4 linked regions of the Homo sapiens genome follow. The protein of the gene in region 1 purifies or fractionates together with the protein of each later gene. This does not show direct contact. Each region holds a gene or a part of one and is shown in the gene's direction. Other genes may lie near its edges.

The links.
Region 2: the proteins of ANKRD39 (region 1) and GLDC purify together in Homo sapiens (affinity purification with mass spectrometry; one large-scale study listed by BioGRID and IntAct). This does not show direct contact.
Region 3: the proteins of ANKRD39 (region 1) and FBXO10 purify together in Homo sapiens (affinity purification with mass spectrometry; one large-scale study listed by BioGRID and IntAct). This does not show direct contact.
Region 4: the proteins of ANKRD39 (region 1) and TBCE purify together in Homo sapiens (affinity purification with mass spectrometry; one large-scale study listed by BioGRID and IntAct). This does not show direct contact.

The regions. Positions count from the first base shown.
Region 1 is NC_000002.12:96,851,515-96,855,045, reverse strand, and holds part of ANKRD39 (ankyrin repeat domain-containing protein 39), read left to right. Parts: intron 1-604; coding exon 605-708; intron 709-1,441; coding exon 1,442-1,645; intron 1,646-3,531.
Region 2 is NC_000009.12:6,586,725-6,590,255, reverse strand, and holds part of GLDC (glycine dehydrogenase (decarboxylating), mitochondrial precursor), read left to right. Parts: intron 1-963; coding exon 964-1,061; intron 1,062-1,553; coding exon 1,554-1,638; intron 1,639-1,813; coding exon 1,814-1,855; intron 1,856-2,972; coding exon 2,973-3,115; intron 3,116-3,531. UniProt on the Homo sapiens protein: The glycine cleavage system catalyzes the degradation of glycine.
Region 3 is NC_000009.12:37,566,376-37,569,906, reverse strand, and holds part of FBXO10 (F-box only protein 10), read left to right. Parts: intron 1-3,531. UniProt on the Homo sapiens protein: Substrate-recognition component of the SCF (SKP1-CUL1-F-box protein)-type E3 ubiquitin ligase complex. Mediates the ubiquitination and degradation of BCL2, an antiapoptotic protein, thereby playing a role in apoptosis by controlling the stability of BCL2.
Region 4 is NC_000001.11:235,370,401-235,373,931, forward strand, and holds part of TBCE (tubulin-specific chaperone E), read left to right. Parts: intron 1-3,531. UniProt on the Homo sapiens protein: Tubulin-folding protein; involved in the second step of the tubulin folding pathway and in the regulation of tubulin heterodimer dissociation.

The DNA.
Region 1 (3,531 bases):
TGCTTCTTGTTTTGCAACTTTCAGTCTTTGTGCTCACCAGGGAGATCCTCTTCTGTGGGAGATTGTCACACTGCCTTGGCAGCCTTCTGGAGGCATCATTATATTTTTTAAAAGTTGTTTCTGGCTGGGCACGGTGGCTCACGCCTGTAATCCCAGCACTTTGGGAGGCCAAGGCAAATGGATCACTTGAGGTCAGGAGTTCAAGGCCAGCCTGACCAACATGGTGAAACCCTGTCTCTACTAAAAATAGAAAAATTTGCTGGGCATGGTGGTGGGCGCCTGTAATCCCAGCCCGACCTGAATTTCACTCTAGATCCAAACATTTTAAACATTACTTCATCCAGCACTTCTGTGTTTGAAGTGGGATGGAGATGTCTGTGTCCGCCCAGTCCTACTGTCCTGATGAGATGTGCCCATCTGTCTTGTTCACAGCTAAGTCACCAGCATTCAGAACAAACCTTGACACAGAGGAGGTGCTCGGTTGATATTTGTTGAAGGAATGAATATTCTTCACTTTATAGACAAGAAAACTGAGGTCAAGAGGCAAAGCAAGCACTGAAACTCCCATTCAGCATCATTCAGTCCTTTGGTTGCCTTTCTGCAGGAATCTGGTCGGCAGCCCTGAATGGAGACCTGGGCCGAGTGAAGCATTTAATCCAGAAGGCCGAGGACCCAAGTCAGCCCGACTCGGCCGGCTACACTGCGCTGGTGAGCTAGGGAGGAGCACAGGGTCAGGAGACAGAAGCGTTAACTCAGGAGACACCTGCTCTCTGAGGAGGGGGACTGATGGTTACCTTTTACCTCCTCCCTCCCTTTCTTCTCTTCCAGCAAAATTTCTCTTTTTAAGCATCATATGAACCTGGATTTTTTAAATTAGTGTGAGACCTTTACATCAATAATTTAGGTTTTGTTTTGTTTTGAGATGAAGTCTTGCTCTGTTACCCAGGCTGGAGTGCAGTGATGCGATCTCAGCTCACTGCAACCTCCGCCTCCCAGGTTCAAGCGATTCTCCTGCCTCAGCCTCCTGAGTAGCTGAGACTACAGGCATGTGCCACCACACCCAGCTAATTTTTGTATTTTTAGTAGAGATGGGTTTTCACCATGTTGACCAGGCTGGTCTCGAACTCCTGACTTCAGGTGATCCGCCTGCCTCGGCCTCCCAAAGTGCTGGGATTACAGGCATGAGCCACTGCGCCCAGCCAATGATTTAGTTTTATTTTCGTAACAATTCTTTGAGATAGGAATGATCATTTTCCCCATTTTTCAATTGAACAAACTCAGGTTAGTCACGCAGAAGCTTGCCCAGGTCACACGACTGCTGGGGTTGGCACCTGAGATGATTCCAGGCCCCTCGCTGCAGGGAGGCCATGCTCTCACCTCTATACCACCCTTGTCACCTGCCTGGCTTCTCCCATCTGACCTCGGTCTCTGTTCCCTGCAGCACTATGCCAGCCGCAATGGGCACTACGCTGTGTGCCAGTTCCTGCTGGAAAGCGGAGCTAAGTGTGATGCCCAGACCCACGGGGGTGCCACTGCTCTGCACCGAGCCAGCTACTGCGGGCACACTGAAATCGCGCGGCTCCTGCTATCACATGGGTCCAACCCCAGGGTGGTGGATGACGACGGCATGACCAGTCTGCATAAGGTGGGCCCGTTCCCCCTTCCAAAAATGTCGTTTCCTTATTTTTAAAGTTATAACATGTTCATGTAGAAAACATGGGGAAAACAGGAAATCAGAGAGAAGACAGTTAAAATCATTTGTAATTCCCTTGCTCACCTGTCATCACTTTAGGACTAATGGGTAATTCTCCAGCCTTTTTTCTGAGCGTGTAAATTAAAATGTACAGTGGCACTTTAGTTTTCTTTCCCTTAGAGACATGTCATGAAGCCTTTTCCATATAGTTTTCTGAAACTTATACATACTCTTGCCTGTTCCTGTAGTCCACTTGCTATATGTTAGCCGGAGTGATCATTTAATTAAACTCTTTCTAGCTGGAAATACCTGCACATGGTAAACAATCTGAAGAGTCTACAAGGGCATGCCATGAAAGCGAGTTTCCCTCCCACCCAGCTCCTCATCCCTCAGCCTTCTAGGCCCGTCCTTTGAGGTGTTCACTTTACCGATTGCTTTTCCTTTTTTGTGGGGAATGGGGTCTCACTGTGTTGCCCAGGCTGGTCTCAAACTCCTGGGCTCAATTGATCCTCCTGCCTCTGCCTCCCTAAGTGCTGAGATTACGGGTGTGAGCTACCCTGCTCGGCCACTTTACTGAGTTTGCAGGCACCTTTGAGAGGCGGTCTATGCATATGTGGCATATGTGTATAAATCATATATGTGTGTAAATCATGTGTAAATCTAGTCCCCTCTTGCCCCTTCTTTGATTTTCTCCTGGAGCGATTGTTTAAAGCAGTTCTGATCATGCCACGCCCCCACTTGGAGTCCTTGAGGCTTGCTTTTTCCAGGTCCATGAGTTATTGTGAAGGTTTCCTGGGGTTTGCTCCTGCCCCCTTCTCCAGGTTTTTTTTTTTTTTTTTTGTCTTTTTTGTCTTTTTTCCCCACCCCTCCAGTTTTCTCCTGAGCTCTTGTCCCCTGGTCTCTTACACTCAGAGGCCCTACTAATAATTTTTCTTTTTTCTTCTCTTTTTTTTTTTTTTTTTTTTTGAGACAGGGTCTCACTCTGTCACCCAGGTTGGAGTACAGTGGCATGATTATAACTCACTGCAGCCCCGACTTCCTGGGCTTGAGTGATCTTCCCACCTCAGCCTCCTGAGTAGCTGGGACTATACATGCCTGCACCACCATGACCAGCTAATTTATTTTATTTTATTTTATTTTTGAGACAGGGTCTCACTTTTTCACCCAGGCTAGAGTACACTTGCACAATCACAGCTCACTTGTAGCCTCGACCTCCTGGGCTCAAGCAATGCTCCTACCTCAGCCTCCCAAGTAGCTGGGACTACAGGTGCATGCCACCATGCCTGGCTAATTTTTCTAAAAACAGCTTCACCACATTGCCCAGGCTTTTAAAATTATTAGTAGTAGTAGTAGAGACAGGGTCTCTCACTATCGTCTCGACACCTGGGCCCAAGCAATCCTCCCAAAGTGCTGGGATTACAGGCATGAGCTACCACATCCAGCCATTTTAATTTTCTTGAACCTACTACTCTGTCCCCCCAGAGCCATATTTAACAAGTTAGCCCCTGTCTGGGTGCCTCTCCCCTCCCGTTTTTTATGTGGCTTGTTTCTACCCTTTCTTCTGGATCTCAGCTTACACATCACACCCCACGAGAGCCTTTCCTGATCCCTAGACATGGTGAGCTCACCTGGATGTATGCCTAGCTGTATGCCATGGACTCAACTTTTCCTAATTCCTGTACCCCTGGAAATTCCCTGTTTGGGGTCTGCGTATCTCAGTAGAGACAGCTGGGGCTTTGTCCTGTTCAAATTGTTGCAGCCTGGCTGGGCACAAAGGCTCACACCTGTAATCCCAGCCCTTTGGGAGGCCAAGGCAGGCTAATTGCTTGAGTCCAGGA
Region 2 (3,531 bases), on another chromosome or scaffold:
TTTCTTCCATTCTGTGGGTAGTCAGTCTCTTAACTTTCTTGATAATGTTCTTTGATGCACACACATTTCAAATTTTATAGAAATTTAATTTATCTAATTTTTATATATGTTTATTGTTTATTCCTTTGGTGTCACATTTAAGAAACCATTGCCAGATCCAAGGTTATGCAGATTAGCCCCTATATTTTCTTTTTTTTTTTTAAGATGGAGTCTTGCTCTGTCGCCCAGGGTGGCGTGCAGTGGCATGATCTCAGCTCACTGCAAACTCCACCTCCCAGGTTCACGCCATTCTCCTGCCTCAGCCTCCCGAGTAGCTGCGACTACAGGCACCCGCCAACACGACCGGCTAATTTTGTATTTTTTAGTAGAGACGGGGTTTCACCATGTGAGCCAGGATGGCCTCGATCTCCTGACCTTGTGATCCACCCACCTCGGCCTCCCAAAGTGCTGGGATTACAGGTGTGAGCCACCGCGCCTGGCCTATTTTCTTCTAAGTTTTAGTAGTTTTAGCTTTTAAATTTACATCTTTGGCCAGGCTCAGTGGCCCATGACTGTAATCCCAGCACTTTGGGAAGCCAAGGCAGGCAGATTGCTTGAGCCCAGGAGTTTGTGACCAGCCTGGGCGGCATGGTGAAACATCGTCTCTAGAAAAATACAAAAATCAGCCAGGTGTGGTGGCATGCACCTGTAGCCCCAGCTACTCAGGAGACTGAGGTAGGAGGATTGAGCCCAGTAGGGCCAAGGCTACAGTGAGTTGAGATCGTGCCACTGCACTCTAGCCTGGGTGCTAGAGAAAGACCCTGCCTCCAAAAATATTAAATAAATAAATAAATAAATAAATAAGTAAAATTATATATTTGATCCATTTTGAGTGCTTTGTGGCCCAGCCACCCAGAAGCCTGGATGTCCACATGTGGCTCCAGGCACAGTTCTGGCCCTATCATCTCTGTGTTTCTCCTTCAGGAACTGGTTGCTGAAAGCATGGGAGAGGAGTGCAGAGGTATTCCAGGGTCTGTGTTCAAGAGGACCAGCCCGTTCCTCACCCATCAAGTGTTCAACAGGTTTGTGTGTCTTGTGTGACTTCTGCGTTTTGTGCTTTGGTAATCAGCTAGGGAGTTAGGCAGAGTGCTGCTGCTGATTTCGCCTGCTGTGGCCTGGTTATTCTGGCTCAGCCGTGGCTCCCAAGTATTTCATCCTCATAACGATCCCGTTCCTGACTTGGGAAAAGCACACTTTGTTTCCTGGTGGCTCTGCTCCCTTGGCAGTCAGGAAGCAGGGATGAATAATTGCCAGGCTGAAGTTCACTCCCAAGAGCCCTATATCCTCTTCTTCCCAACCTTCAACTCATACCCACAGTCAGCTTCTTGTCCAAGACATCCTCTGAGGTTTGTGGGGGTCTGTGCCCTTCTCTCTGAGTGTAGTTGACATATTGTCCGTGGCCAAAATTGATCTGCATTTTGAAAGTAGATTTCGGTGTGTCTTATATGTCAGGAGGATGTGCATGGACTCATATCTACTTTTGGGGCCCCTAATTCTGTGTTTTGTGTTCACAGCTACCACTCTGAAACAAACATTGTCCGGTACATGAAGAAACTGGAAAATAAAGACATTTCCCTTGTTCACAGCATGATTCCACTGGTAGTTATTTGTGGCCTTTTTTCTCATTTCCAAGCTACCCCAATCCCACGTCTCTTGGTCCTACCTAATATGCTCCAAGAGCAACAAAGGGGTGGCCATGCTGGGAGAATGGAGGGTTGATTGATGGACTATAGAAAATCACTAATGTGATACATTTTGGATGTTCTTCTTAAAGGGATCCTGCACCATGAAACTGAACAGTTCGTCTGAACTCGCAGTAAGTAGCTCACTTCTGTAAGTGGATACTCAGCAAGGGGCAGTGTTCTAGCTTCCACCTAAGCCCAGAACTAGTGAAATCTACTGGGACTGTGATTCTGTGATTGAAGAACTATTTTAATAATTCTTTACCTTGCTATTCACCAATCTTGGGAGTAACCCTGTATTTCTCACGACTTCATCATTTAAATGTATGGGTAAACTTATTATTTTTTAATAAAATTAATTAAATGTATATGGTATTTATGCCTTTCTATCCTATCCCTCCCCCACCCCCACCCCCTTTTAAACCTGTCATATTAAAAGCTTTTTTAAAAAAAATTGTTTATAGTTCTAAATCTCAGGTAGAATTACGAACCTTAAGCCGTCTTTCTAGAAATCATTCCTGTATCAGAAAGATAGGGATTCAAGTCAACAGAAGATTTGTGCAACTCGCTGTTGTGGTTGGCAAGTATCTCTACTAGGCCAGGATCCATTTTAGCGAAGCTTTTTTTTTCTTTCTTTCATTTCTTACGTTTATTCTGAAGTGACATATCATATCAGACGAAAGAAATCATTTTATATCATGATAAGAATATTTCCCTCTCTATTTTTTTAAAAAATAGAGTCAAGGTCTTGCTGTGTTTGCCAGTCTGATCTCAGACTCCTGGCCTCAAGCAGTCCTCCCACCTCAGCCTCCCAGAGTTCTGGAATTATAGGTGTGAACCACTGTACCTGGCCTTCCCATTTACTTTTGTGTTTGTTTCTTGTTCCACTTAGTGAAGAAAGAGAACAATCTATTGCTATATAAGAGTTTATGCCAACCATACCTGAAGCAACTCATTGTGTTTCATGGAAAGAAATCTGTTTTGGGGGCTTTTCTTCCCTGAAAAGTTAGCAAAACATTGTATTTTTGTGTAAGTTCCCTTTTTGGACAACTATGTCCCACTTTTAAATGAAGACAGTAACGGTACTTACCTTATAAGGTTGTGGTGGAACTTAAATAAATTAACATATGTATAGCGCTTAGAACAGTGCCTGGCACATAGCTTTTCTCATCATCGTCATTATTATTAAAGTTATTATTGCTATTGCTATTATAATATGTATATATGCATTTTTGTTTTCTTTCTTTTCAGCCTATCACATGGAAAGAATTTGCAAACATCCACCCCTTTGTGCCTCTGGATCAAGCTCAAGGATATCAGCAGCTTTTCCGAGAGCTTGAGAAGGATTTGTGTGAACTCACAGGTTATGACCAGGTCTGTTTCCAGCCAAACAGGTAAGGGCATTTCTTTTCTTATTGTTTCAGCAATCTATTCTTGTATAGCATACACCACAAAACTTAAAGGCTTAGAACAACAACTTTTTTGTGTTATTCTGTGACTTGCTAGACAGTTCCACTCCACTGGGGAGAGCATGGCTAGAAGGTGCATCGTGTTCTCCCTCACATAGCTGGTGAGGAGCTGTGGGCTGGGAGTGCATTTGAGGATGTTCACTAGGGCCATAGTTTTTCTCCATATGGGGCTTTCCTTGTAGTTCCTTGAGCTTCCTTGTTCCTTACAGCACAATGTCGGGGTTCAGAATGCGTGTTCCCAGATGAAGCATGGAGAAGCTGCAAATCTCTAATGGCCGAACCTCCTAAGTTACACTGCATCCCTTCCAGATTAGTCTATCTATTAAAGCAAGTCACGAGGC
Region 3 (3,531 bases), on another chromosome or scaffold:
ATCCTTTATTTATGACTAATTATGACTGTGGTCAGTGAGCTTGTTCTGTTTTTGGTTGGTTGGTTTGTTTGTTTTTGAGACAGTCTCACTGTCTCCCACATTGGAGTACAGTGGTGTGATCATAGCTAACTGCAGCCTTGAACTCCTGGCTCAAGCAATCCTCCTGCTTCAGTCTCCCCAGGTAGCTGGAAGGACTACAGGTGTGAGCCACTGTGCTCGAAGCTGTATAATTTTAATCCTTTGAAATTTCTTGATACTTCTGTTAGAGCTCTGTTTATGGTCAGTTTTTATAAATGTTCCATGTGTGTTTGAAAGTAAAATGTATTCTACAGTTATTGGATTCAATGTCCAATGAAATGCCATTAGATCAAGTTTGTTAATGGTGTTCAAATCTTCTTTATCCTTACTGGGTGTTTTTTTTTTTCCTATGAATTATAGAGGGATGTGTTTAAATATCCAAGTATAATTATGAATTTGTCTACTTCATCTTTTAATTTTTTTTTTTTTTTTTGCTTTATATCTGTAAGGCCGTATTATCAGGTGCATATACAAATATAAAGTTGTTTTATCTTCTTAATTCTTAATTCTTAATTCACTTTTTATCATTATGAAGCTGCCTTTTTTGTTTCTAATAATTTTTTTTTTTGCCTTATACTTTACCTGATAGTGTAATCTTTTTAAAAATCTACACAAGGTATTTTTTTTCCATTAGTTGCATCTTTTCTGTAACTGTGTTTTAGGTAAGTCTCTTATGAATAGCATATAATTGGGTTTTGGTTTTTTAAACCCTGGGAAAACTTATAAGGAAGTTTTAAAGTCAGGGAAAACCCTGACTTTCTCTGTCTTTTAATTAGAACATTTAGTCCATTTTCATTAATAGCACCACTGATGTATTTTTGTTTAGGTCTGCCTTATTTTATGCTCTCAATCTGTTTGTCCTGACAGTTCTCCATTTCATTACAGCTGTCTTCCCTTCTTTGGAGCTATTTTTCATCATTCACCTTTTTTTTCTACTAATGTGGATGTTATACACTTTTTCTTAATGGTTATGCTTGAAATTTCAATTTGACCAAAGTTGATAGATTTCCGTTATAAGTGGTGAATATCCTTGCTCTTTTGGACAGACAGTACAGCGACCTTAGACCACATGAACTCCGACCTTAGACCACATGAACTCTGACCTTAGACCACATGAACTCCGACCTTAGACCACGTGAACTCCGACCTTAGACCACATGAACTCCGTTTATCCTTTTTCCACCTTAGGGTAGAGGAGATGTAAATACAATGTATCAACTTTGATTGGAGTCTTACTAGCCTACAGAGAGAAAAAGGAAGAGAGTAAATAATTTACCTGAGAAAACAAAGTAAATTGGTTTCTTGAAAACAAAGTAAATTGGGTGGGTGGGGATGTGTGCCAGTGGCTCACACCTGTAATCCCAGCACTTTAGGAGGCTGAGGTGGGCGGTTTGCCTGAGGTCAGGAGTTCGAGACCAGCCTGGCCAGCACGGTGAAACCCCATCTCTACTAAAAATACAAAAATTAGTCAGGCGTGGTGGCAGGCGGCTGTAATCCCAGCTACCCGAGAAGCTGAGGCAGGAGAATCACTTGAATCCAGGAGGTGGCAGTTGCAGTGAGCCAAGATCGCGCCATTGTACTCCAGTTTGGGCAACAGAGCAAGACTCCATCTCAAAAATAATAATAATAATAATTTACTTGAGAAAACTGTCAGGATTTGTTTGCTTGTAGGTGATCAGCTTAAAGTATCTGAACTTGAAAAAGAACATCAGTTGGCTTTAAAAAGAAAATGTTACTGTGTCCCTGGCCCTTTGATCTCTTGCAGTCTCTCACCTTAATTGTCTGAGTTTGGCTTCATTCCTCATATGGACTCTTTTGAGTTGCCCCATTCCTTGCAAGAGGATGGGGGATTCTTACTGTCTTCTTTGGGTCAAGTATCCATCCTGTGAGGTAGAGGACTGCAACACTCTCAGTGGCAGCCCCAGCAGGACTAAATAGAGTAGAAGCGGGGTTCCCCTGAGGACGCAGAAGAGGGAAGGTGCTGGGCAGACATAGCTAAGGTCAGGTGCAGTGGCTCATGCCTGGAATCCCAGCACTTTGGGAGGCCGAGGCGGACAGATCACCTGAGGTCAGGAGTTCAAGACCAGCCTGGCCAACATGGTGAAACCCCATCTCTACTAAAAATGCAAAAATTAGCCAGGCATGGTGCCTCCTAGTTCCTTTCTTGGAGTACTGGGGTTCCTAACTTGTGAAGTGATGATATAGGAACTTCTAGCCCCACCATCACATATATATAAACTCACAGATCATGAAATAAGAATGAATTTGATCCTGCAATTGTTATGCACTAAAATATTACCACACAATAAATGTTTACTCATAGGAATTGAGGATAAGCATACTACGTTTTGGTTGTTATAAGTGCTCATTAAGACGATATGTAAGGCTGGGCATGGTGGCTCACGCCTATAATCCCAGCACTTTGGGAGGCTGAGGCAGGAGGATCGCTTGAGCCCAGGACTTTGAGACTAGCCTGGGCAACATAGTGAGACCTCATCTCTAAAAAAAAAAAAAAAAATTTAGCTGGGTGTGGTAGCGTGTGCCCATAGTCCCAGCTACTCAGGAGGCTGAGGCTGGAAGATCACTTGAGCCCAGGAGATTGAGGCTGTAGTGAGCCAAGATCACATCACTGCACTCCAATCTGGGTGACAAAGCAAGACCTTGTCTCAAAAAAAAAAAAGAAAAAAAGAAAAAAAAAAGACATGTAAAAAGCACCTGGCATTTAGTAAGCCCTCAAAACACCCTTGCCTGCCCCTTCAAGGACATGCAATAAATTTATGTGAGAATCAGTACTAAAACCTGGATCTGGGGACCCCCCTGCAACTCCCCTTCTGTCTCCTAAGTAAACCAAAATGAACAGGCAGTGCATTGAAAGGAGAGAGGGTCCTTATGGCTCCAAGCCCACTCAGAAAGCACCATCAGAACACAGCTTTCTGGTTTATGTCATCAAATTTCAAAGCTGAAAATAAGAAACAGATGGTTATTTCTCACGCTGAAGAGAGCTACGGTTTGAAGAAATGATGAAAAGCCCAGCTGAAGTTTTTCTCATCTTCAAATTTAAGTTTTGTCTCATTTCCGATGGTGTGTGTAGGTGTGTGTACAGGGCTCTTTGGGGTTATAATATTTTACTATTACTTTAGAACAGTTTACTCCACAAAGCTAGGGACATTTACTTTGATTTGAAGAAAGATTTTAAATCATTAATCCATTACAGTTGCTCAGTTAATACAGTTTGTAGTTATTTACGCTGTGCCTGTGAGGCTTGTGTGCCTCATAATGTTGGAAGAGAAATTTTTTCTTTTCCTGTCAATACTAAATAGGGTTCTGAGCAGCCCTTGATTTTTTTTTCCACTTTTTTTTTTTTTTTTTCCGAGACAGAGTCTCACTTTGTTGTCCAAGCTGCAGTGCAGTGGTGTGATCTCAGCTCACTGCAACCTCCACCTCCCAGGTTCA
Region 4 (3,531 bases), on another chromosome or scaffold:
TGCCACCATGCCTGGCTAATTTTTGTATTTTTAGTAGAGATGGGGTTTCACCATCTTGGCCAGGTTGGTCTTGAACTGCTGACCTTGTGATTCACCCGCCTCAGCCTCCCAAAGTGCTGGGATTACAGGCGTGAGCCACTGCACCCGGCATTTTTTTTTTTTTTTTGGGAAGATCTCTTATTGTACTTCCCTGTAAAATCCATTACTGTTTTATTCCAATTGCCTAAAATAGTATCTGGCTTTTAGCAGACACTCCATAATATAATTGTTGATTGAATGAATTTGGGGTTTTTGCACCATCTTCTACACTTCATATTTTTATGCTTTTTTCCTCCTTGTCTTTTCTTTTTTTTTTTTTTGAGATGGAGTCTTGCTCTGTCGCTCAGGCTGGAGTGCAATTGTGTGATGTCGGCTCACTGCAACCTCCGCCTCCCGGGTTCAAGCGATTCTCCTGCCTCAGTCTCCTGAGTAGCTGGGATTACAGGCGCACGCCACCACGCCCAGCTCTTTTTTGTATTTTTAGTAGAAATGGGGTTTCACCATGTTGGTCAGGTTGGTCTTGAACTCCTGACCTCATGATCCGCCCGCCTCAGCTTCCCAAAGTGCTGGGATTACAGGTGTGAGCTATCACGCCTGGCTTTTTTTTTTTTTTTTTTTTTTTTTTTTTTTTTTGAGACAGAGTGGTTGCTCTTGCTGCCCAGGCTAGAGTGCAATTGCATGATCTTGGCTCACCGCAACCTCCGCCTCCTGGCTTCAAGCAATTCTGCCACCTCAGCCTCCTCAGTAGCTGGGATTACAGGCATGCGCCACCATACCTGACTAATTTTGTATTTTTAGTAGAGATGGGGTTTCTCCATGTTGGTCAGGCTGGTCTTGAACTTCTGACCTCAAATGATCCACCTGCCTCAGCCTCTCAAACTGCTGGGATTACAGGCGTGAGCCACCGCCCCCGGCCACTCTTGTCTTTTTTTTTTTCCCTTTTTTTTTTTTTTTGAGACAGGGTCTCCCTCTGTCACCCAGGCTGTAGTGCACTGACACGATCTTGGCTCACTGCAAGCTCTACCTCCCGGGTTCAAGTGATTCTCCCACCTCAGCCTCTGAGTAGCTGGGATTATACGCGTGTGCCACCATAGCCTGGCTAATTTTTGTATTTTTATTAGAGATGGGGTTTCATCATATTGGTTAGGCTTGTCTCAAACTCCCAACCTCAGTTGATCCACCCACCTCTGCCTCCCAAAGTGTTAGGATTACAGGCGTGAGCTACAGCACCCGGCCCCACCTTTTTTTCTGAGACAGAGTTTTGCTCTTGTCACCCAGGCTGGAGTGCAATGGCACGATCTCGGCTCACTACAACCTCCACTTCCCGGATTCAAGTGATTCTCCTGCCTCAGCCTCCCAAGTAGCTGGGATTACAGGGACCCGCCAGCATACCCAGCTAATTTTTGTTTTTTTAGTAGAGGTGGGGGTTTCACCATGTTGGCCGGGCTGGTCTCGAACTCCTGACCTCAGGTGATCTGCCTGCCTTGGCCTCCCGAAGTGCTGGGATTACAGGCATGAGCCACTGTGCCTGCCCTTTTTTTCATTTTTTCATTTTTTTGTACAATAGGGTCTCCCTCTGTTGCCCAGGCTGGAGTACAGTGGTGTGATCAGGGCTCACTGCAGCCTCGAACTCCTGGGCTCAGGTCATCCTCCAACCTAAGCCTCCCAAATACATTGGCCTATAGGCGTGCACCACCACACCCAGCTGATTTTTATATTTTAATTTTTAATTTTGCTGTGCATATTTAGCTGGGATTACAGACGCACTCCACCTCGCCAGGCTAATTTTTGTATTTTTAGTTGCAACGGGATTTCACCATAGTGGCAAGGCTGCTCTGGAACTCCTGACTTCAGATGATCCTCCTGCCTTGGCCTCCCAAAGTGTTGGGATTACAGGCGTGAGCCACCGCTCCTGGCTGGCTTTGTAGAACCTTAAACATATTTATCTATCTTAAGAATTTTTCCCAAGGAAATACTTCATAAGGTAATATTTTAAAAATCAAAGCTGTTTTTAGCTGTTTTCTTTGGAGTTGTAAATAAACAGCATTAGAGAAATGATTGGCTGGGTGCAGTGGTTCACACCTATAATCCTAGCACTTTGGAAGGCTGAGACGGGAGAATCTCTTGAGGCCAGCAGTTTGAGACCAACCTGGGCAGCATAGAGAGATCCCTTCTCTACCAATAGAAAAGAGAGAGAGAGAGAGGCTGGGCACGGTGGCTCACGTCTGTAATTCCAGCACTTTGGGAGGCCGAGGCGGGCGGATCTCGAGGTCAGGAGATCGAGACCATCCTGGCTAACATGGTGAAACCACGTCTCTACTAAAAATACAAAAAATTAGCCGGGCGTGGTGGTGGGTGCCTGTAGTCCCAGCTACTGGGGAGGCTGAGGCAGGAGAATGGCGTGAACCCGGGAGGCGGAGCTTGCAGTGAGCTGAGATTGCACCACTGCACTCCAGCCTGGGCGACAGAGTGAGACTCCGTCTAAAAAAAAAAAAAAAAAAAAAAAGAGAGAAATTATTAAGTAAATTGTGGTATCATACTTGGATATTGAGATGATTAATGTGTTGACTCTGTGGCTGTATAGAAAAATGTTTATGGACAAATGTTAATATGGCCAGTTGAGGTAGCTCAAACCTGTAATCCCAGCACTTTGGGAATCCTCAGGAGGATTGCTTGAGCCCAGGAGTTAAAGACCAGCCTGGATAACATAGTGAGGCCCTACTTTATTTTAAAGGAAGTTAATAAAAGAAGTAGAACAAATTATATGTCTCAGTGGTAGTAAAATTCTGCTTACATGTTAATGAAAATTTTGAAAGGGCACTTAAAACTAGTAAAAAACTCATTTTTAGGGTAATACAATTGTAGTAAAATTTAAACATTTAAATTTTATGATCGGAAGATGGTAGTAAATCAGAAATGGCTTTGGAATTTCTTTCATTGCAACCTTAATAGTAAGCAACAGTCTTTCCCATGAAAGGGACAGAAAAAAAAGAATGTAACGTCTACATTTTTTTTTTTCTTTGAGACGCAGTCTCACTCTGTGGCCCAGTCTGGAGTGCAATGGCACGATCTTGGCTCACTGCAACCTCCGCCTCCAGGGTTCAAGCAATTCTTGTGCCTCAGTCTCCCAAGTAGGTGGGATTACAGGCACTCACCACCATGCCCGGCTAATTTTTGTATTTTTATTTTTATTTATTTTTATTTTTATTTTATTTTATTTTATTTTTGAGACGGAGTCTCGCTCTGTCGCCCAGGCTGAAGTGCGGTGGCGCGATCTCGGCTCACTGCAAGCTCCGCCTCCCGGGTTCACGCCATTCTCCTGCCTCAGCCTCCCGAGTAGCTGGGACTACAAGCGCCCGCCACCACGCCTGGCTAATTTTTTTGTATTTTTAGTAGAGACGGTGTTTCACCGTGTTAGCCAGGATGGTCTCGATCTCCTGACCTCGTGATCCTCCCGCCTCGGCCTCCCAAAGTGCTGGGATTACAGACGTG